Homo sapiens: one gene and its partners. The protein of the gene in region 6 purifies or fractionates together with the protein of the main gene of each other region. This does not show direct contact. Each region holds a gene or a part of one and is shown on either strand. Other genes may lie near its edges.

The links.
Region 1: the proteins of AGRN (region 6) and USP24 purify together in Homo sapiens (affinity purification with mass spectrometry, with the first as the bait; one large-scale study listed by BioGRID). This does not show direct contact.
Region 2: the proteins of AGRN (region 6) and MYOT purify together in Homo sapiens (affinity purification with mass spectrometry, with the first as the bait; one large-scale study listed by BioGRID). This does not show direct contact.
Region 3: the proteins of AGRN (region 6) and PCNX3 purify together in Homo sapiens (affinity purification with mass spectrometry, with the first as the bait; one large-scale study listed by BioGRID). This does not show direct contact.
Region 4: the proteins of AGRN (region 6) and MAP1S purify together in Homo sapiens (affinity purification with mass spectrometry, with the first as the bait; one large-scale study listed by BioGRID). This does not show direct contact.
Region 5: the proteins of AGRN (region 6) and FHL1 purify together in Homo sapiens (affinity purification with mass spectrometry, with the first as the bait; one large-scale study listed by BioGRID). This does not show direct contact.
Region 7: the proteins of AGRN (region 6) and FLNB purify together in Homo sapiens (affinity purification with mass spectrometry, with the first as the bait; one large-scale study listed by BioGRID). This does not show direct contact.

What each region holds. Positions count from the first base shown.
Region 1 is NC_000001.11:55,096,865-55,100,364, reverse strand, and holds part of USP24 (ubiquitin carboxyl-terminal hydrolase 24), read left to right. Parts: intron 1-495; coding exon 496-594; intron 595-1,806; coding exon 1,807-1,889; intron 1,890-2,280; coding exon 2,281-2,422; intron 2,423-2,647; coding exon 2,648-2,767; intron 2,768-3,192; coding exon 3,193-3,413; intron 3,414-3,500. UniProt on the Homo sapiens protein: Ubiquitin-specific protease that regulates cell survival in various contexts through modulating the protein stability of some of its substrates including DDB2, MCL1 or TP53.
Region 2 is NC_000005.10:137,881,360-137,884,859, reverse strand, and holds part of MYOT (myotilin), read right to left. Parts: exon of another isoform or gene 2,888-3,500; coding exon 2,755-2,887; exon of another isoform or gene 1,477-2,754; coding exon 1,269-1,476; exon of another isoform or gene 1,239-1,268; intron 1-1,238. UniProt on the Homo sapiens protein: Component of a complex of multiple actin cross-linking proteins. Involved in the control of myofibril assembly and stability at the Z lines in muscle cells.
Region 3 is NC_000011.10:65,632,776-65,635,357, forward strand, and holds part of PCNX3 (pecanex-like protein 3), read left to right. Parts: intron 1-1,303; coding exon of another isoform or gene 1,304-1,350; coding exon 1,351-1,581; intron 1,582-1,762; coding exon 1,763-1,866; intron 1,867-2,197; coding exon 2,198-2,345; intron 2,346-2,442; coding exon 2,443-2,582.
Region 4 is NC_000019.10:17,729,480-17,732,246, forward strand, and holds part of MAP1S (microtubule-associated protein 1S), read left to right. Parts: intron 1-2,767. UniProt on the Homo sapiens protein: Microtubule-associated protein that mediates aggregation of mitochondria resulting in cell death and genomic destruction (MAGD). Plays a role in anchoring the microtubule organizing center to the centrosomes. Binds to DNA. Plays a role in apoptosis.
Region 5 is NC_000023.11:136,203,547-136,207,046, forward strand, and holds part of FHL1 (four and a half LIM domains protein 1), read left to right. Parts: intron 1-1,355; exon of another isoform or gene 1,356-1,393; intron 1,394-2,860; coding exon 2,861-3,042; intron 3,043-3,469; coding exon 3,470-3,500.
Region 6 is NC_000001.11:1,023,120-1,026,619, reverse strand, and holds part of AGRN (agrin isoform 2 precursor), read right to left. Parts: intron 1-3,500. UniProt on the Homo sapiens protein: Isoform 1, isoform 4 and isoform 5: neuron-specific (z+) isoforms that contain C-terminal insertions of 8-19 AA are potent activators of AChR clustering.
Region 7 is NC_000003.12:58,126,922-58,130,421, reverse strand, and holds part of FLNB (filamin-B), read right to left. Parts: intron 1-3,500. UniProt on the Homo sapiens protein: Connects cell membrane constituents to the actin cytoskeleton. May promote orthogonal branching of actin filaments and links actin filaments to membrane glycoproteins. Anchors various transmembrane proteins to the actin cytoskeleton.

The DNA of each region.
Region 1 (3,500 bases), about 54 Mb from region 6:
ACCCCCATGCCCGGCTAATTTTGTGTTTTCAGTAGAGATGGGGTTTCTCCGTGTTGGTCAGGCTAGTCTTGAACTCCCGACCTCAGGTGATCCGCCTGCCTCGGCCTCCCAGAGTGCTGGGATTACAGGCGTGAGACACCACATCCGGCCAAGAATACTATTTTTAAACATTGCTTTACTGTGTTTCACATATTGGAGGATCACCTTGTGTTTTTCCCCATAGGTTGATTTGTTTCTAAGAGAGAAATTCTCTGTTCCATGGCCTAGATCTTACCCAGTACCCACTTTTGATTTCAGAGACTTGTTATGATTGTAAGGGGACTAGAAAAAAGGGTGGATGGCTGAATACAAGCTAGTCTCACTTCACTAGAAATGTCCACATCCTAATAGTGAACCTGATTTTTATAAGCATTTAAGTGCTCTTTCATGTTCCCTTTCTACCACATTCAGAAATTGCTACTTTTCCTTTAAAAACATTTAATTTTTGTTATATAGATTTTCAAGATGTGGAATAAAGAACTTTATGTGAGAGAACAGCAGGATGCATATGAATTCTTTACTAGTCTCATTGATCAGATGGATGAATACCTCAAGGTAGTAAAAGTTGTACTTTCCCTCTAACTCCCTCAAACTCTAATTATAGTATGAGAATAGTGTCTTAGCATTTGGGGTTACTATGAAACTGACGAATCAGAAATTGATTATCTTTAACATAAGAACTATAATGTATTCTGTGTTTAAACATCAAAACATAACACAGATCAATAGAATTGTATATTTTCTCTTTTTTTTCTTTTCTTTTTTTTTGAGACAGAGTCTCGCTCTGTCACCCAGAGTGGAGTGCAGTGGCACAATCTCAGCTCACTGCAACCTCTACCTTCCAGGTACAAGAGATTCTTGCACCTCAGCCTCCCGAGTAGCTGGGATCACAGGTGTGCACCACCACGCCCGGCTAATTTTTGTACTTTTTGGCAGAGATTGGGTTTCGCCATGTTGGCCAGGCTGGTCTCAAACTCCTGGCCTCCAGAGATTCACCCACCTCAGCCTCCCAAAGTGCTGGGATTACAGGCTTGAGGTACCATGCCTGGCCTAGAATTGCATATTTTCTTAATTCATCTAACGCTCAGTAAAGTATGTAACTCTTAATCTCTACTACATAGTAATAACCATTCCTACCTACATATTCTTTCTGTGTGTCTACTGAAATAATCTGGCCTCAGAAGAGTGCTGCAGTCACTGGTGAGCTGATGGCCCTGTGCAGAGCAGAGAGTGCTCTGGCACAGGGGAGAAAGGAGCCAGATTAAAAAGTTATTCGTGGTGCTGTTGAAACCCAAAGCTCTCTACCTCTACCCTGTAAGCCATGTGGCAGACTTCCTAAACGGTATTGCCTTCTCAGATCCCGCTGTCACTGCCAGCATTGGCCTCTCATCAGTAGGCACAATTCTTCCATTTTTTAAAGTAACTTGCAAATTGATGGCATTCTATCCACAAGAAAAAAGAAAAGATTGCTGAGAGTTGCCCCTAACTTGGTCCTTGTAGCACAGGGAGAAGGATTCAGAATCACCCTGGAGAACACTCTCTTGTCATTAGCTCTACCTGACCCATCCCTCCTCCTCTTCCTCTTCTGATCGTCTGCATCACTCTGACAGTGGGGCCAATAATGGGTTTAGCCTCCATTCACCACAGCTGATACTACCAGAATGACGCGTTTTGTTTTGGTCCTTAAATTGCAATGTGTTAATAAAATTCTGTATACTCATAAGTTCAGGAGGCATCACTTAAAACTGTAACTTTTCATTCCAACAGAAAATGGGGAGAGACCAAATTTTTAAGAATACATTTCAGGGCATCTACTCTGATCAGAAGATCTGTAAAGACTGTCCTCACAGGTGAGTGAAGATATCACCGACACAGGAAAAATGATCATCCTTTTGAAGTGATTTGTTTAGTATGTTGTAAATTTTGCATTTGTTAAGAGACTTAGAACTCTCTCCCTGTCAACAGATCTATAAGTATTTAGTGACTTAAATTTCTTTGCTTTCTACTTCCAGAAGGAGAAAAAATTTCTTTGTGGGCTTAAGAAAATATTCATTGAAATTCATAATTTTAGGCAATTCTTAATTGTCACAAAGTGGCATTTTAACTTAGTAATGGACTTTTAAAATATTGAGGGACTCCCAGATTAAAAATGTAGTTCTGTGTTCAAGCTTAGGTATTATGATAATTGAAGAGTTTTAAATTCCATTGTTGATTGTGGGTTTTCTGTTATTTCCTAATCAGATATGAGCGTGAAGAAGCTTTCATGGCTCTCAATCTAGGAGTGACTTCTTGTCAGAGTTTGGAAATTTCTTTGGACCAATTTGTTAGAGGAGAAGTTCTAGAAGGAAGTAATGCGTACTACTGTGAAAAGTGTAAAGAAAAGGTATTATGTTTGCCCTTTTTAAAAAACAAGATTAATTTGTTATTCGCATAGTGCGTCTTTGTTTTATGTAAAATCAGTATTAAGCTCCTACTGTTATTTCCATTAGATTGTGTCATTACTTGTTTTCACATGGATCAGAAAGGCCTTTGCATTAATTACTGTGCTGTTTTATTTTCTCCATGGAGATCATTCAGATTTGCTCTTTTTCCTTTTTTTTTTCTTTAGAGAATAACAGTGAAAAGGACCTGTATTAAATCTTTACCTAGCGTCTTGGTAATTCACCTAATGAGATTTGGGTTTGACTGGGAAAGCGGACGCTCCATTAAATATGATGAACAAATAAGGGTAACTTTTTTTCTTCCTGAAATTTTTCACAACCATTCATTTCCTCACTCACTTCTTTTTTTTTCCTTTTTCAATTTTCATATTCTGTCTACCATGTTAAGGCTGTTGTCTCAGCATTATGAAGAGCCCCTTATCTTAGGCAGCTGCTGTTACCGGAATAGGCAGATCTGGAAACAGTGGCCCTCATTTCTAGAAGGCATCCTAGTGATTACTATGAAGGAAAATGCCTTCCTTAGGGCTCAAACCAGAGGCTACTTTAGACGTTCCCAGACTTAACATTTCTGAGATTTTATACTTGAACTGGTGAGGTAGTTGTTCCTAGCTTAAACTAGGAAAACACTTCCTCTTATTTGGATCTCACTTAACTGGGTACTGCTGTATATGTTAGTAATCAACGTTAATATGGTCTTTTTGCTTCTACATAGTTTCCCTGGATGCTAAACATGGAGCCTTACACAGTTTCAGGAATGGCTCGCCAAGATTCTTCTTCTGAAGTTGGGGAAAATGGGCGAAGTGTGGATCAGGGCGGTGGAGGATCCCCACGAAAAAAGGTTGCCCTCACAGAAAACTATGAACTTGTCGGTGTCATCGTACACAGTGGGCAGGCACACGCAGGCCACTACTATTCCTTCATTAAGGACAGGCGGTAAGAGTTTCCTGAGGCAGCACTTACTCACTTTCTGCCCTCCCCTGCTCTCCGTTATCATCCATACTCACCGCTGTGGTGCAGGGA
Region 2 (3,500 bases), on a different chromosome or scaffold from region 6:
CTGTATAATAAATAGTGAATTATAGCAAAATATCTCTTATGCAATATACAATGGCTTAAAGTATTAAAAATATGGTATGGGTTGAGTATCCATTATCTGAAATGCTTGGGACCAGAAGTGTTTTGGATTTCTGATTTTTTTTTTATTTTAGAATATTAGCGTTATACTTGTTGAGCATTCTTAACCTGAAAATCCAGAATGCTCTAATGAACACTTCCTTTGTGTGTCATGTCGATTTTGGAGCATCTTAAAGATTTCAGATTTTTGGATTAGGGATACTCAACTTGTATATTTAAAGCACTTAAAGTGTAAAATTTAAAAACCAGACACCAGTTTTATAAGAACTGCTCTACTTAAGACAGATTTGAGACATAAATGTAGCCATACCTGTTTTCTAAAGCAAGTAGGCCTGTTTTGGTTATAATTAGACATTAGTTTCCTAGTAAAAAGGACATAGTCTAAGGCTAAAAGTTGATATTTACTCTTGATTTTTTAAGAAATTTTTTTAAACAAGGTCTGACTGTGTCACCCAGGCCGGAGTACAGTGGTGCAATCATAGCTCACTGAAACCTCAAACTCCAGGCTCAAGTTATCCTCCTGCCTTAGCCTCTCTAGTAGCTGGGACTATAGGTGTGCACCACTATGCCCAGCTAATTTTTTTATTTTTTGTAGAGACAAAGAAGATCTTGCTATTTGTTACCCTGGCTGGTCTCAAACTCCTTGGCTCAAGTGATCCTTCCACCTTGGCGCCTCTTAAAGTGTTGGGATTACAGGCCTGAGTCACTATACCCAGCCTACTCTTCACTTTTAAACTATGTATTTAACGTTTGACAGATTATGATAATTCTGTAATACTGTGAGTCAGATTGGTTATTTTTATTATCCTCATTTTGGAGAAACAAAGACCAGAGAAATGATTAGACTAAGATTTTCATTTTGAGACTCTATAGTTACGTCTAGAAATGCTTATGCTTCATTATTTGGTTTGTCTAAAATTGTATGATTTATTTTCTTTCCAGAAAAGCTTTGGTGATAGATCTGTCATTCTAGTTTCACTGACTTTCCTTCACATATCTATATATGTATGTATGTGTGTGTATATATATATATTTTTTCCTGTGGTTTGTAGATAAAAATGGACATTCCAATAGGTTGTATAGACATTAACCTTAAATATGAAGTCTGCTGGGCTTTTCTTTTAAAATACTTTCTTTTTTTCAATACTTCTGGATTTTAAGGAATTCTCAAGGGTCTCTTTGGAGGCTTACCAAGGACATCCAGCTGCACAGTGAAGGTGGCTTCTCCTGCTCTATTCTTGGCAACACATGCATAAGCCCCTGCATCTGAAGCTCTGACTACTTCAAAGATGAGTGAATGAAGACCCTTCTCAGACACTATCATTTTGTGCAAATCATCTGATTGAACTGTTCTTCCATTTAGATACCATGACACATCAGGAGCTGGCAGTCCACTCACCTAGAAAGAAAAACACAAGGAGATGGCAGAATTTTAAAGTATTGCATCACTGAAACCTATTTGTCCATATATGAATTTAAACAGTTCCCGTATCTGAGTGGGTTTGCGATTGAAATGCAAAGCAAGAGCTCAAAAGTATTTATAATTTTTTAAACAAAACATTGGAAATAAGATCCTTGAAATTAACATAGTATTTTTAGACTGTCTCAAACCATAACTCTTTTACATGCAACCTCAGTCTCTTTATGAACTCTTAATTTCTATATTTAGAACATTAATTTATGTTACATTGGTTTCCATAAGGAATATAGAAGTCATTGCTTTTCTGGCTAAATGTGACTGCAAATGAAGTCCCAGAGGCACATATATATGAGGCTTCCTGATCTAATGCGTAATTTTTCTAAAACAGAGTGTTCTTGAGCTATAGTTTGGCATATAAATGGCAATTTGTTAAGTGTTTTTACATAAACTGTTAACAGTGGAATCCAAAGCTTTAACACTAACTTGAGTTCATAAGGAATCTGGAAAAAAAATTTTATAAGGAAAAGTTCTCCAAAATAAGGATAATAAAAATATAACCTCTTCTAAAGAGCTTTTCTAGTCTGAGGGACTCTTTTAGGCCAAGAGAAAGCAGGGTGGCTTGAATTTCTTGATAGAGGAGAATTGGAGAGACATTATACTTTAAGGCTGGGCACAGTGGCTCACGCCTGTAATCCCAGCACTTTGGGAAGCCAAGGTGAGTGGATCGCCTTGAACCCAGGAGTTCTAGACTAGCTGGGCATGGTGGCACGCGTCTGTAGTTTCAGCTACTAGGGAGGCTGAGTTGGGATGATGGCTTGAGCCTGGGAGACAGGTTGCAGTGAGCTGCGATTGTGCCATTGCACTCCAGCCTGGGTGACAGAGCAAGACCCTGTCTCAAAAAAAAAAAAAAGGGCATTGTACTTTAAAAATTATATTGTTCTGATAGCTTCACTTATAAAAGTATTTATTAGGTATACCTATCCACTCAATTAATCCTCATAATTTTTTGGGGTATTTGTTATCCCATTTTACAGATGAGGAGACAAAAGCACAGAGAGGTTAAATGACTTGTCTAAGGTTGCTTAGCTGGAGGATGGCAGAGCCAGAATTCAAACCCACATCAGTTTGACTTCAGAATTTGTGTTCTTGTCCATTGTACGTACTGCTTTGCAAGCTATGAAGTAGGAAAAGAACATTTTTCAAAACTTAGTATCCCATTGTTAATTTTCCCCCAGTACTTTTGAACCCTTCTCTTACTTTGAAGTCCATTCTGCAGAATCTTCCTTCATCAATCGACATGTTCTCTGGCACTTGAATGAAACGTGGTGGGTAAAATTTCTCCTGGATTGCATCCTGATCATTCACATCTCCCCTTGAGGTTGATCTACTTCTACAAGAATATTTTGGTAACAACTATGCGTAAATATTATCATTGCTTTTCATTTTGCACAAATATAGTTTAGCCATCAATTTTTTTTTTTCAATGGAGTTTCACTCTTGTTGCCCAGGCTGGAGTACAGTGGCCCAATCTCAGCTCACTCAGGAGGCTAAGGCAGGAGAATCGCTTGAACCCGGGAGGCGGAGGTTGCAGTGAGCCGAGATCGCGTCGCTGCACTCCAGCCTGGATGACAGAGTGAGAGTCTGTCTCAAAGATAAATAAATAAATAAAAATATCCAAATTAAGTTTTTGACGTTTTTCTATAGTGGTGGTGTGAACATGTATATAGTTATATTCAGAGATGTGGTATTTCAGTTATACCAACCTCCGCTTCTTGGGTTCAAGTGATTCTCTTACCTCAGCCTCCCGAGTAGCTGGGATTACAGGCATGTGCCACTACGCCTGGCTAATTTTGTATTTTTAGTAGAGATGGGGTTTCACTATGTTGGTCAGCCTGGTCTTGAACTCCTGACCTCAGGTGATCTACCCACCTCGGCCTTCCAAAGTACTGGGATTACAGGTGTGAGCCACTGCGTCCAGCCTAGCCATCAAATTTGAAACCACA
Region 3 (2,582 bases), on a different chromosome or scaffold from region 6:
ATTCTGTCACCCAGGCTGGAGTGCAGTGGTGCCATCTGGGTTCACTGCAGTGTCCACCTCCCAGGTTCAAGTAATCCTCCTACCTCAGCCTCCCAGGTAGCTGGGACTACAGGCATGCACCACCATGCCTGGCTAATTTTTGTATTTTTTGTAGAGATGGGGTTTCGCCATGTTGTCCAGGCTGGTCTTGAACTCCTGGGTTCAAGCGATCCTCCCACCTCCACCTCCCGAAGTTCTGGGATTACAGGTGTGAGCCACCCTGTCTGGCTGAAGCTTTTCTTTTCTGGGTCTTTTTAGCAGCTCTGGTGGTGCCTGGATTGTAGAGGCGAGCTATGGGCAAGAAAGTCAGTCTGGAGCGGGTCTGCCCTGGCAAAGGGCCTGCCCCATTAGCTCCATCTTAGGGTGGCACATGGAATCCCCATCACCTCACTGGCTGCCCTGCCGGCCTTAACCCGCCCGTGCATCCTGGCCATGCCAGCTACCTGTCTTCCAAAGCTCCTGTACTTTTGCCCAACAGGGCCTTTTAACAAGAGGTCCAGGAGCCCCCAGCTTTGGGTACCACATGTGCCCGTGGCTTTTTTCTGAGGCGAGGCCTGATGGCTGTCATGCTTCAGCTGCCTAAAGGGACCTGTGACCCAGGCACTCTGAGGCAGGCCCACTACTTCAGCCTGCCCTTCCGGCCCCGAGATCTGGATCCCACAATGTCATGATGGGGAAGGTCCGGGGTTCAGGCGGCAGTTCAGTCTGTTCTGCCCCACTCGCTCCCCGCCCCCTGCCCATGTGACATCTGGATGCTCCCGCGCTCGGGGTTATGTTTGTGCAGGAACACCAGCTCCTGCTGCTACCTGGCCCACGTGCTGCACAGGCACTGAAGGTTCACCTGAGGGCCACACCATAGTGTCGGGGCCAGCCAGAGGCGGGTGGGGGACAGGGTTCAGGGCAGGTGGGGCCAGCTCCACCTTGATGACTTGGAAGCTGAGGTGGTAAATGTTGAGTGTGATGATCTTGTTCTCGTTGGGGGCTGCCATTTGTTTGAGCCTCAATTTCTCATACAAACGGGGCATATTCTAGGGCAGAGGCAGGCAGATGCTGCTTGTGAGTGCTAGCCCCAGCACAGGACTTCCTGCTCTGTAAGTGGGTGCTTCCTGGCGGCTTTGTCACTCCTCCCTGGTCTAGGGGAAGGAGCCAACTTGCTTGGTTGCTCTTGAGAGCTGAGATGGCTCTAGGAGCGGGGCATCCCAGAAAGCGGACTTCAGCTCAGTCTTGGGGAGGAGCCTCTGAACCTCCATGCTTTCTCCTCCAGTGGCCAGGGCCGGGACCCCGGCCTGACGCCTGCCCCTCCTCTCCCAGAGCATCATCTACTACGTGAGCCGCTCACCAAAGCTGGAGGTGTGGCTCAGCCATGAGGGCATCACGGCAGCCCTGAGGCCTGTGCGGGTGCCCGGCTATGCCGACTCGGATCCCACCTTCTCGCTGAGTGTGGATGAGGACTATGACCTCCGCCTGTCTGGCCTCTCGCTGCCCTCCTTTTGTGCTGTGCACCTCGAGTGGATCCAGTACTGCGCCTCCCGGCGCAGCCAGGTCAGGCTCCACTACCTGAGGCTGCCACCTGGGGCTGTGGGACCTGGGCTTCCCTGCTCCCCTTCTCCCCATTTGGTTTCCTCTCACTCTGAGCCTCCCTTAGCCTGAGCCCCAGCCCCCACTCCAAGGTCCCTGTCCCAGGTCTGAGCTGGGCTCTGGGATGGGGGTCCTTATGCCACAGCCCGTGGACCAGGATTGGAACTCCCCGCTGGTCACGCTGTGTTTTGGCCTGTGTGTGCTGGGCCGCCGGGCCCTGGGGACAGCCTCTCACAGCATGTCTGCAAGGTGAGTGCTCGGGTGTCCCGCGGGGCCTACTGCCGTCCCCACCCCACCTCTTCCACGAAGAGCACTGTGGTCTCTGGCCACAGTGGCCACAGAAACTGCAGTGGCCCTTCCTGTTGGGGTACCTCTTCTCCCACGGGCAGGGCACTTCCTGGTCATGACCTTGCCTGCTCCTCAGTGCTCTGTGAGAGACATGGGCAGAGATTGGCCTCTTTGTCAAGATGGGGAAACTGAGGCTCAGCGTGAGGAAAGGCCTCTGCTTGGATCACTCTGAAGCCTTACCCCTGGGTCCTCGACACCCCTCTCTCCCCTCCCTGTTTTTCCTCCCACTTAGCCTGGAGCCCTTCCTCTACGGCCTGCACGCCCTGTTCAAGGGGGATTTTCGCATCACCTCCCCACGTGACGAGTGGGTCTTTGCCGACATGGACCTGCTTCACCGCGTTGTGGCGCCTGGGGTTCGCATGGCCCTCAAGCTTCACCAGGTTGGGGAGGGGTGTGCCCAGCAGCATGGGCAGGTGGGGGATGAAGCCTCTCTCCAGGGCAGGGGCCACTGACCCCTGTTCCCGTCTTCTCTACCAGGACCACTTCACGTCCCCAGATGAATATGAGGAGCCAGCAGCCCTATACGATGCCATTGCGGCCAACGAGGAGCGGCTGGTCATCTCACATGAGGGTGACCCAGCATGGCGCAGCGCCATCCTCAGCAACACGCCCTCCCT
Region 4 (2,767 bases), on a different chromosome or scaffold from region 6:
GAGGAGGGTCTCTGGCCTGCTGTGCTGTTCTTTGTTTTTTTTCTGAGACAGAGTCTCACTCTGTCATCCAGGCTGGAGTGCAGTGGCGCAAACATGGCTCACTGCAGCCTCGACCTCCTGGGTTCAAGCAACCCTCCCACCTCAACCTCCCGAACAGGTGGGACCACAGACACGCACCATAACGGCCAGCTAATTTTTTTTTGAGATGGAGTCTTGCTCTGTCACCAGGCTGGAGTGCAGTGGTGCGATCTGAGCTCACTGCAACCTCTACCTCCCGGGGTCAAGCGATTCTCCTACCTCAGCCTCCCAAGTAGCTGAGATTACAGGCATGCGCAACCATGCCCAGCTAATTTTTGTATTTTTAGTAGAGATGGGGTTTCACCATGCTGGTCAGGCCGGTCTCGAACTCCTGGCCTCGTGATCTGCCCGCCTCGGCCTCCCAAAGTACTGGGATTACAGACGTGAGCCACTGTGCCCAGCCTACGCCCAGCTAATTTTAAAATTTTTCAGTAGCACTGGGGTCTCACTATGTTGCCCTGGCTGGTCTTGAACTCCTGAACTCAAGTGATCCTTTGGCCTCGGCCTCCCAAAGTGCTGGGATTATAGGCATAAGCCACCACGCCCGACTCAACGTTTAATTTTGGATGAACCGCCAGACTGTTTTCCACAGCAGCTGCTTGACGCTAGCCAGTCTAATGGGTGTGAGGTGGGATCTCATTGTGGTTTTGATTTCCATGTCCCTAATGATTAGTGATGTTGCATCTTTTCATATGCCTATTGGCCATTTGTCTGTCTTCTTTGGAGAAATGTCTATTCAATTCCTTTGCTCATTTTAAAATTTTGTTTTACTTTTTAGAGACAGGGTCTCGGTCTGTTACCCATGCTGGAGTGTAGTGCAAACACAGCTCATTATAGCCTCAACTTCCTGGGCTCAAGTGATCCTCCCAGCTCAGCCTCCCAAGTAGCTGGGACTACACAGGTGCATGCCATCGTGCCTGGCCAATTGTTTAATGTTTTGTAGAGATGGAGTCTCACTATGTTGCCCAGGCTGATCTTGAACTCCCAGCCTCAAGCGATTCTCTCGCCTTGGCCTCCCAAACTGTTGGGATTACAGGCATGAGCCACCATACCTAGCCCCCTTTGCCCATTTTTAAATTGAGTTGTTTTCCGTTGCTGAGTTTTAGGAGTTTTTTAAATCATTCTGGACATTAATCCTTTAGCAGATAAATGGCTTGCAAATATTTCCTCCCATTCTGTGAGCTGCCTTTTTATTCTTTTGATAGTGCCCTTTGATGCACAAAAGTTTTAAATTCTCATGAAGTCCATTTTGTCTATTTTTTTCTTTTGTTGTCTGCACTTTTGATGTCAGACCCAATAAATGATTGCCACATCGATTTTTTTTCTTTTTTCTTTTTCTTTTTTTTTTTTTTCAGATGAGTCTGGCTCTGTTGCCCAGGCTGCAGCATGGGAGCACTATCTTGGCTCACTGCAACCTCCGCCTCCCGGGTTCAAGCGATTCTCCTGCCTCAGCCTTCCTGAGTAGCTGCGATTACAGGCACCCACCACCACACCTGGCTAATTTTTTTTGTGTTTTTAGTAGACACGGGGTTTCACCACGTTGGCCAGGCTGGTTTCAAACTCCTGACCTCAAGTGATCTGCCCGCCTCGGCCTCCCAGAGTACTAAGATTATAGATGTGAGTCACCATGCCTGGTCAAATCCAACAGTGAGAAGCTTCTACCCCATGTTTTCTTCCAGGAGTTTTAAGTTTTCCATTTCACATTTAGGTCCATTTGGAGGTAATTTTTGTATGTGGTGAAAAGATCCAGTGTCATTCTCTTGCATGTGGAAGCCCAGCTTTCCCAGCACCATTTGTTGAAAAGACTATCCTTTCCCCATTGAATGTTTGGAACGCTTGTTGAAGATCATTTCAGCATACATGTGATGATTTATTTCCGGGCCTCTATTGTATTCCATTGGTCTATATGTCTGTCTTTATGCCAGTGCCACGCTGTTTTGATTACTGTAGCTTTGTAGTAAGTTTTGAAATCTGGAAGTGTGAGTCCTCTATCTTGATTCTTCTATTTCATGATTGTTTAATCTCCTTTTCACATTGTTCATTGTTCATGTATAGAAATTCAACTGTGTTTTGCCTGTGGACTTTGTACCTTGCTTCTTTGCTGAATTCGTTTATTATTATTTTTTGAGATGGAGTCTCACTCTGTCGCCCAGGCTGGAGTGCAGTGGCACAATCTCAGCTCACTGCAACCTCCACTTCCTGGGTTCAAGCAGTTCTCCTGCCTCTGCCTCCCGAGTAGCTGGGATTACAGGCACCTGCCACCACGCCCAGCTAATTTTTGTATTTTTAGTAAGAGACAGGGTTTCGCCATGTTGGCTAGGCTGGTCTTGAACTCCTGACCTCAAGTGATCTGCCTGCCTCAGCCTCCCAAAGTGCTGGGATTACAGGCGTGAGCCACTGCACCCCCAGGCCTGATTTTTTACATTATTGTTCATAAAGTCTGTTGAACTGGCATTTTCTTGTAGAATTAAATATCTGTGCCTGGCTTTGGTATTAAGACAATTCTGGTCTTATAAAATGAGTTAGGAAGTGTTCCTTCCTCTTCAGTTCCTCGGAAAAGTTTGAGAAAGGCTGATGTTAGTTCTCTAAATGTTTAGTGGCTTCCCCAGGGCTTTTCTTTGTTGGGAGGTCGTAAGTTACTGATTCATTCTCCTTGCTAGCTACAGGTATGTGCTGATTTTCTATTTTT
Region 5 (3,500 bases), on a different chromosome or scaffold from region 6:
TCTGACATTTTCAACACCCTTTGTTACTTCTATCTTCACTGGTGAGCTGTGGATTATTTTATCATCTGGATGCTTAGAACTCTGAGCAAGTCATGTTCTAGAACTATGAGACTAAACAATGAAGAACTTTGCACTGGTAATATCAAAGTACTGAAAGTGTGTGGTTTTAAAGTGTGAAAAACATGGCAGTTAAGATCTCTCAGGTACTTTGAACCATAATGCAGTTTTCCTTCTCTTCAAAACCTCTACTTCTAAATGGCATTCATTGTGTTTTCTAGTGTTTTTTCTTTGGTATGACACTAGTTAACCTGTATTTCTTACCATAAAGCTAGGACTCAAATACTAAGAGGTTTGACTCACCTTAGGTGGAACTTTATATAGTACTTTAACTTAGAAATATTTGGAATCAATTTCTGCTTATAAAGGTATCAAAAGCAAGTGATACTAAAACGAGTAGGTTCAAAGTTGTATACTAAATAGAGACCTTGGTAAGAGAGAATGAGGGATTTTCAAATATGGTCCAGAAGATAGTCTCTGAAAGGCTAAACCAGCAATGGTTACTAGCCATGCAGGAAGCCAGTGCTGTCTAATCTTACAAATTCTGTTTTCCTGCCAAATGGCATTTAGGAGCAACTGATAATTTATTTCTTGCCACTTGCCGTTACTGGAGATTTATTTGGTTTCTCAACTCAGCCCTTAACAAGAAAGCAAGTCTTTGTTGAGGGCACAATATTATCAGTATGGCAAAGCTAAGACGAGGCTTCTGTGTGACACTGGAAAGACCAACAAGAATGGATTAAAGAGAGTGATTTTCCATATGCTGTCACTGGGACAGGTACTTTTCTCTGTAGACACACAGGCTAAAAGCAGTTTAAAAGCTTCCTTACCTAAACAGTACATAGTTCAAGGAGATAGGCCCTGTGTCCATTGCGTCTCTAGTTTTTGTTTCTAACCCATTATATAAAGAAACATCCCAGTTTGCTTTTTAGAGAAAAGTTCAAGTTAGAACCATTCTCTGGTCTTGCTAAGTCTCTTAATTGTGACACAACTGTCCTAAGCAACTGTCCTTGCACAAGAATGTCACTCATCTGCTTCATCTGCCAGCTCCTTAGAGATGAGGGGGGTCTGTGTGTCAGCAGGAGGCAGAAGGCCCTGTGGCTCATCCAGTGGCCTGATTTCCTTTGTTTGGAGGCTTGGTTCTGAGTGAGAGTTCAACAGCCTTTGCCCAGGCGGCTTCTCAAACACAGGGTGTGGTTTCCTTAGCTCACTCTCTGCTGTTTGGTTGCTCATGGCAACAAGATCCAAATAACTTGGACATGTGTTTGTATAAAAAAAACCTGGGAATGGAACCCAAAGTGAGACTTTGGGGCTTTCAGTTAGTGGAAGAGCTGCGGTGAGTACCAGGCAACTGCTCATTTATTTTCTCTCATTCTTTCTCTCTAAATTACGCTGGAAGTTTGCTAGCACAATAACCATGTTTGTGGATAGTTTTAGAAAGTAGTCTCAATTCTTGTATTTCCTGCACAAATGAAATAATTGCTATCTATTTACCCGTGCAAATTTCTTTTTCGGGGGAGAGGAACAAATTAGCATATGTTTAAAGAAGTTGAAAGCTAATAGAAACTCATATTTGGTACCTTTTGGGTGGCAGGATTCTATAGGAAATGCCTTGGCAAAGGGAGCTGCAGAGTGCCTTAGTAATGCTTGGGATTGCAGGCGTGTTGTCTAGGGCCACAGCCGGGGAGGGGACCAGGGAGGGAAGAGGGGTTGTTCATACGGAGGGAGTGGAAGGGATTCTTGGAATAATTTTTTCCAGACTCTATTTTAAGATTATAATTTTTAAGACAGCAAATATCCCAAATGGTAATACTGGTTACACTTCTATGAGCATATTGATTCTCACTTGCTTGACTCAAGGGAGGGTTTGATTTTGGTCACAAAGCCACCCGTGACTATGACAGATAATTCAAGGTTGCCAAACTTGCCTGTGCCAATTGACAAAGCCATTTATATAAGTCCTCTCTTGCTATATTGCTCTGGCCTCAAAAGGCAGTAAACTCTCTTGGACAAAACTCTTTAGGATCTATTCAGGGATTTAACACTTTTCTGCTAAATTGCAAGTAAATTTAAACATTTTAAACAAATTAACAAGGATTGCTTAGGTACCTGGTGTGGTACAGAATGAGCTGTCAGTTTCTATTCTGATGAATAGAATTTTATAGATAGGAGGAACGGGAGGCCTCCAGAGGATACTACCCTCCCTAAAAAGAGACGGAGGAAGAGCTGAAAGCGGGCAGAGAGGCTTCTTGATGACAACGTGGTGGGCTTAGAGAAGCTGCTGCCTGCAGGCGGGGCCCCTGCTTTCCTGCACCCCTTTGAGCCTCTGCCCCACACTCTTCCTTTGTATAAAACAACTGCTTCTTGCCTGCCTGCCCCATCACACCCCTCCACTCCATCGGGTCACTGCTCAATGGCACAATAGCACTGCTCAGCCATACCTCCCAGCATCCTGTCCCCTATCTGGTGACTTGGCCAACACAGGCTCTGATCCACTTGCCCCGCTCCGCATCTTTTGTGAATCAGCACAGTTGATATATCTGAGCAGGGGCTTCTACCATCTCCCCAGGGAATCACTAGCCATCGGCCATCTGGCCCCGCGGGGTGCTTTTGTTCCTGGAATCATAGTGAAGTATCTGTTGTCTTGGTGCCTGGTAGTCAGCTCGGCTGAAGGGGAAGCTGGGTCTTGGTCCTCAGACCCCATGGACTCCAAGGCAGCATTGTGCAGGTGCCTCTGGGAGCCACTGCTCAGGGTGCTGGGGCATTTCCTGTGGTCATTTGTCCTGTCTGCTTGCCCCCGCAGGTCCCTCCAGCTACAAGGTGGGCACCATGGCGGAGAAGTTTGACTGCCACTACTGCAGGGATCCCTTGCAGGGGAAGAAGTATGTGCAAAAGGATGGCCACCACTGCTGCCTGAAATGCTTTGACAAGTTCTGTGCCAACACCTGTGTGGAATGCCGCAAGCCCATCGGTGCGGACTCCAAGGTAACGGGCATCCCCATGTGCCAATGGGAAGGGCTGGGTTTTGGAGTGTCCTTTGCCCACAACCATGGCAGCAGCAGCTGGCTGTTAGGATTTCCCAGCATCACTGCAGCCACCTTGAGGCCTCAAGGAAGCCTCCTCCACTCCCCAGGCCACAGTGGCCCGAGCTGTTTAATGTGGGGCTTGACTGGATGGGCGCCAGCGCCCTTGCCAGCTCTTTTGATTGCATTCTAAATATTTCAAGAATTGTGAGATTTTTATCCTCACCTCAGCGTCCCTCCTATAAGAATAGTCACTGTGGGGCAGTCCCAGGTGTAAGGGACTGTGTCATCTCAGTGGTCAGTCCCAGGGAAATCAGCCTTATGGGAGGGCTCCTGCCACCACCCCCAGCACCCCTCATGGTGGCCCACCCTGTCTGCTTGGTTTCCAGGAGGTGCACTATAAGAACCGCTTCTGGCATG
Region 6 (3,500 bases):
GCCCCACCCAGGCCGCTGGTGGGGCTGTGGACCTGGGTCCCACAGGTGGAAGCAAAGCCCTGGGCGTGGGGCGTCTGCTTCTGCAGTTGTTTTCCACCCTCCTGCAGTGATGGGGGCAGAGTCAGCCCTTCAGGAAGGAAGCTGCATGGGCCTGGCTGGAATGACCTCTGGCCGGACCTGTGGCCCCGAGGCACGGGCACCCCCTTCCCTGGAGCAGCCCCATCCCGCCTTCTGCAGGCTGTGGGGCTAATGATTCCCTCTCCTGATCTTGCAGGGACAGGAACCTGTCCTCACCCTAACCTCCTTCTCCCCTACCTTGGCCTGGAGGCTGCAGCAGGTGCCATCCCCACCACCACCCACAGAGGCCCCACCAGAGCGGCCAGTGTGGACAAGCGGGAGCGAGCCCAGTTCCAAAACAACCTTCCCTCTCTAGTCTGCAGGAACAATGGAGCCAGGGCTGTTCTCTGGGTGGGGAGTGAGGGAGTGGGGTGGGGTCTGGAAAAAGCCAAGAGTTCCTTCCACCAGCTCAGCCCGGCCCTCTCAAAGAGGTCATCTCCACAGAACTGACCAACCCGATTCCCCTACCCCTCCCACCACCTCACTCCCTTTGGTTTCAGCCAGCAAAGCCCCCCCCCAGGCCAAGGCAGGGGCAAGCCCAGGAGAAGTCAAAGACGGGACAAGTCCATTCACGCAGGCGGGAAGCACCGAGCCCCGACTTCCCACCAGGAGCCCCGGGGTTGGGATGGACAGAGGTGGGCCCTTCACCCGGCAGACCCCCCTCCCAGCTCCAGGAGAAACAGAGGTGGGGCCCCAACTTCCTACCAGGAGCCCCTGGGTGGGGAGACACAGAGGTGAGTGGGGAGGGACAGAGGTAGGCCCTCCGCCCTCCCACCCGGCAGACCCCCTCCCAGCTGCAGGAGGGAGATTGGGGCAGCAGCCTCGAGCCCAGACCTGCCTGGGGGAGGGCCAGAGAGGGGCTCATGGGGTGGGGGTGGGGGAACCAGGGGGCAGGATGAGAACCTGGAGTCAGGAGGGGGCAGGAGAGGGTGGCAGGAATGCGGAGGAGTTGGGGGCAGGAGCTGAGCCCTGGGCAGGAGAGGGGGCTGGCCCCAGCCCTATGGGAGGTCCTCCTGCATCCCAGAAACCTCCCCCAACTCCTAGACTGCCCCACACTGAGGGGAGCCTGGTCTGGGGCTGTCGGGCCCCTCAACCCCAGCACCGATGCTGTCCCCGGTGCCGTGGGACTCTGGGCTTCCCCTAGGACTGCCGTCCTGAGGCCTAGGCAGCTGGCCAGGCAGGGAGGAAGGGAGGGTGCACACGCCGGAATACAGGCGGGCCCGGGACTAGGCCGCCGGGACCCCGGGCTTCAGAGCTGGGCAGGGCCGGGCTGGGAAGGCGCCAGACTCACTCTGACCCTGGCCCCCTGCCCTGTCCCTGTGCCAGGCCCCGGCAGGGGCAGACAACACTCCCTTTCTCTGCTCCTGGCTCCTAGCAGGGAGGGATGGGCCCCGGGCGGCCTGGCCGGCCCTCAGCCAGGAGTCCCTCCTGGGGGCTTCAGGGAGGCTCTAGGACCAGCCTTTGTGAGGTGGGCTGGGAGGGCATGGGCAGTGCCCAGACAGGACAGGGTGGCGAGGGCCGGAGGAGTCGCCCGCTCAGCCGCCAGCCCTGGGCAGCTGGCACTGCGGAGGCCAGGCCACTTCCCTGACAAAGCAGGGGCGGGGGTCTCCTTCCGGAGGGAGCAGCGGGCCTCCCCCGCCCAAAGGTGGCGCAGAGGGAGGGACACATACCTGTCTTAGTTATGCCAGGAATGTGGCTCCCTAGGCAGAGAAGGGGGGAGGAGCCTTTCTGAGGGTTGTTGACTGGGGGAGGGGCCTTGGCTGGGCAGGGCCAGGAAGATCTGGCAGGGCCAGGTGAGAAACTGAGGAAAGGAAGTCCTCAGTAGAGCTGAGTCCAGGTGTGGCCCAGCAGCAGGTGCACCTCAGGCGGTGTCCGGGCAGGGGTGGTGAGGGGCGTGGCCCTCCCCGACCTGGGGAGCTCGGAGGGGCCTTTGTCTCCAGGATGGGGTTCCCATACAAGGTGGGACCCTGTGGTCTCAGGGGTAGCTTCTGAAGACTAGGGGCTGCCCAGACGCCATCCTGTGCCCTGGGAGGTGGGGTCGGAGTCAGATGGGGAGAGGTCAGCTAGGCTCAAGCTCCCTCCATCCATCCCCCTCACTAGGGTGAGGCCTTGGCTACCAGAGGGCCCAGGGTGGGGTTCAATGTCCTTATCTCCTACAGAGCAGGAGATGGACCCACCTCCCACACCACCCAGTGTGAGGGGAGGGGTGGGCACACAGAATTGTCCCTTCTCCAGCCAGACTGGCTCCAGAGACCTTGTCCCTCAGGGCTCACCCCAGGCTTCTGGGAGGCATTTACCCTGTCCCGGCAGCCAGGGACCCCAGCCACCCGAGATATCCCTGGTCTACTTCCACAGCAGAGCTCCACATGTCCCACCGGAAGCTCCTGGGCTCCCCCACTCCTCATGCTGTTTCCCTCCTGAGGCTCCCCTTGGCCCCTGGCTCACCTGCAAGGCCCCTCCCATGACAGTCCTCCCTGGCTAACCCTCCCCTGGCCAGCCCCACCCCAGGGGGTCCGGTGGCCACAGCCCCTCCCGGGTGCTCCCCAAGCTGCATACTGGCTGTGGGTCCCAGGCTCCCCACCTGGAGCTCGTCCCTGAGTGCGACTGCCCACAGCTGGGCTAAGCCACACCCACCTGGCAGGGGCTCCCCACGGACCCTCCTCCCAGCGCTCTGCTCCGCCTGGGCACTCGCTCCAGAGCCAGTGCCTGGCACCCGTAGAGCGGCTTCGGTAAGATGCAGAGCCTCGTTCAGCCGGGGTGACTCTCCTGCCATGTGCCCTCTGACCCTAGAGCAAGTCCTCAGCTACTAAGTCACGGACTCTCGGGCTGGACCCACCTGGCTGTGGGGTTAGTGACCCCCTCTCCTGATCTTGCAGGGACAGGAACCTCTCCTCGCCCTAACCCCCTTCTCCAGCCCCTCCTCAGCTCCTGACAGCCTATCCTGAGTCCACGATGCCCCCATCTTTTCCCCAGACCATGAGTGCCCAGAAGAGGACCAAGGTTATCATGTCCTCCCAGTGGGGGACCCAGGGGACCCTCCTCTGTGCTGCACTGAGGCCCTGGACCCTGAAGGCAGCTTGGGGACCACTGACCACAGGCTGGGGAAAAGGCCGCAGCGTTCCTTATTTTGGGTGCTGCCCCTCCCCCTGCATAGCCCCCAGGCATGCACAGAGAAGGCAAGAGCAGTGGACAGTCCAGGACCCCACAAGGACCCCTCAAGAGCCAGGCTAGTGTCAGGGCAGCAAAGTTTCCTGCCGGCCAACGGAGCAGATCGGAGAGACGGGAAGTCAGGACCCTTACCGTTGCCTTGAGGAGGAAGCACTCTCCAGACCCCCCCACCGACACATCCCTTCCCAGGCAGCCATGAGGGAGCAGACAGGATG
Region 7 (3,500 bases), on a different chromosome or scaffold from region 6:
TGGAGCACTCAGGAGGCAATTAACCTGGTCTGCGGGAGACCAGAGAAAGCTTTCCAGTAACATCTCAGTTGCGGCACAAGAGGGAGCAGACAGAGAGGTGCTTCAAGTAGAGAGGCCTCAGCACATGCAGGAGCCTAGAGGCGAGGGAGGAGACAGGCTGCTGGAGCAACTGAAGGAGGAAGCCAAGTGGTGGAACAACAGAACGGAGAGAGATGGGCAGGCCCTGCAGCCCACATCCAGCCCTGTCCCCCACACATGGCTCCTGTGTGTCCCCCAGACTCCTCTCCCTCCAATGCAGCTGGCACCTTCTGACCACACTCAGCCTTCTCGGTCACTCGGCCACCTGGTGAAGCCTTGCCGTCTTCCTGAGTGTAAGCTGAGCTCCTGCTACATGGCTGACCCCCCGGGGGACCCTGAGGGCCTCTGACTCCTTGAGGGTGTCAGTTTTAAAGATGAAGCACAGAGGAGTCGAGGAGAGGAGATAGTGATTTGCTAGAGAAGTGCTAAACAGAGAAACAAGGGCTAGGCCAAGGACACTCATGGACTCCACTGTGGAGGGGGACCTCCCCATCCAGCGAACGGCAGCATGCCTCAGGCTACCACGCCCATCACCAAGGGGCTACGTGCACCTCTGCCTCGCATGGGAGTCCTGGTGCTCCCCATGGTATCTGGCAAAGTTAATGACTGCCGTGAAAGCTGAGGGATCTCTGCTTTGCATCCCAGAGAATTTATACTTTGTAGAATTAGAGATGGTAGACAGCCAAGACACACAAAGAATTGAGTCCCTGGCTTTCTAACAACAGCTGGGTTTCAACGGCATCCAGGTCTTTAGCTACGTGAAATAAATGGCTGGCCCTGGCAAACAAGCACAGGCCTCCACACTGGGGTGAGAGGAACAAAAGGGGGCTTTACTTTAGAGAGTGACAGTTGAGGATTTCAATGTCAACAGCTGATGGCAAGGGACTACCTCTGAGGCCAATCTTTAAGTCAGAGCCTCCACTAGAAGTTGTCTGAGCTCAGCATGAGAGTAGCCAAAAACCAACAAACCCGGGTAAGATAAACTGTCCAAGATGGCAGACCCCAAGCATTATCCGCCACTCCCCTGTTCCATGCCCAGACACATGTCACCATTCCCTCATGCCAGATCTTCTTCCTCATGCACTCTGAACCCCAGTCAATCCAGTGGTCTAGGGAGCCGCCACCAACCAACCACAGCTGGCCTACCACAGGAAATCAACATGCCATTACGGGTAAGACAGGACACGTTGTTAAAAATAACTCCACTCCGGGTTTTTAACCAGGCCAGGAAAAACTAGGCTAATATTTAAGCACCCAGAATTACCATGAAAGCAAATTAGAAGGTGGCAGGTAGCCGACTGTTTCCCGGCAGTACCCCCATAGGTTGCCTTAGCTAAGAAGCCTGATGCTTAGAAAACCAACCAACACTTCACTAAATATCTCTGCCTGGGAAAGTTCTGGGGTTCTGGAAAAGCCGGCATTTGGCTCTCTGGGAGGCAACAGAGAGCCTGAAACATAAAAAGGCACCATCCACACCTGATGGGAAAACCACAAATGAGTGTCTTTCTGTTGTTATGCTCAAAGACGACCATTTGCTTTAAGCTCACAGGTCGGCCACAGGGGACAAACTCTGACCCCTTTCTGTAAGGGGGATTCGGAAGCTGGTGGCACTCACCAGCCTTTCCCCATAGTCAAAAAGTTTCATTGCCACAGGAGATGTTCATCTCCACTGTTGCCTGCCAGGTCGGAGCCACATCACCCCTCCTGGGAGCAGCCTTCTACCCGTTTCCTGTGCCCAACTCTCTCCTAACGCAAGTGTTACAAAACTCCAAAACAAGCCCGTAGCTCTGAATTCTGTCACCGAGCCCCATTCTCATTCTTCATAGCAGTCATCACAAGTTTTAGTTGTAAAAGCCCTAGACAGTAAGCTCCCTGAGGGCAGGAACTTTGTCTTGCCCACAGCTGAAGTCCCCTAGACTAGTGATTATAGGAATTTTTTAAATCTATATTGAATGAGCCGCAAGCACAAGTTTGAGGAGAAACATGTTGTTTTAAATGACTTGAGGCTTAAATGAGTATCTGAGTAGAATCAGTCTGAGTTGAATGTCAATACTTTCTGATCAGTGTGAGAGAGAGTGAGTGTGAGTGTGTGTGCACATTTCCATGTGGTAAGGGGGAAGCAGGAATGGAATCAGGAAAGCGTGTGGTCAGTGGACACTCCAGCTGCCTGAGAGTTAACCCAGAACCCAGCAGTGGGCCCCTCAACCTGCCCTTCCCCTCTCAGCGTGACCCAGAGAAAGAAGAACAAGACCCCGCTGAGGCTCTTTCTGCTCCTGGGGTCCTGGGGTGGGGCTTTGCCCTCTTCACACCACACCTAAGACAAGGCATAAGTGGCCCAGAACAGCCCCAGCCCTCGGTCTTCTGTCCACACCACACACTTGCCTGCCCTTTTAGAAATGGGGGCGGGGGAGGTGGTCTCAGAATTCACCACTATAGAATTCATCCATGTAACCACAAACGACTTGTACCCCAAAGCTATTGAAATAAATAAATAAAATGTGTGGGGGTGACAATCATTTGAGTAGATAACTAGAACCTATGGAGAGTCCTCCCCCCAAAACAAATGGAGGAGGGTCTTTCACTACTTAAGTCATATATTTATTTATTGTTTGAATCTTTACAGCAGTGGTTCAGGCTGAAGTGATTTTGTCCCTTAAGACATCTGGCAAGATATGGAGACATTTTTGGTTGCCACAAATAAGAATGGGGAAGGAGAAGTCTGCTATGGGCATCTAGCAGGTACAGGGCAGGGATGCTGACAAAAGTCTACAATGAACAGGACAGCCCCACACCACAAAGAATCATCTAGCCCAAAGTGTCATAGTGCCGGAGTTGAGAAACCGTGTTTCACAGTGATTACACATGACATCACTAAATACAAAAGAAAGAATTTGAATCTGCATATCTTGATCAGCTACTAGTATTGTCAGTGAAAAAAAAGAAACCAAGACACATGAATAAGGAGCCAAGCACAAAATAAGGTAGAAATTTTCTTTCTTTTTCTTTTTTTTTTTTTTTGAGACAGGGTCTTCCTCTGTCACCCAAGCTGGAGCGCAGTGGCGCAATCTCAGCTCACTCAACCTCCCAGGCTCCCATCTCAGACATCGTCCCATCACAGCCCCCACCCCACATAGCTAGGATTACAGGCACGCACCATCACACTCAGCTAAGTTTTGTATTTCTTGTAAAGATGGGGATTCCCCATGTTGCCTGGGCTGGTCTCAAACTCCTGACCTGAAGCAATCTGCATGCCTTGGCCTCCCAAAGTTTGGGGATTACAGGTGTGAGCCACTGTGATTTTCAACTTTGTAAAGAACCAGCTTTCCCCTGAATCAAGAACTAGGTCCTCCAACACACGCACAACTGTTTCCAGTCAAAATTCTAAGCCGATGCTTTTTGCCATGTTACCGGTTCTACTGGGA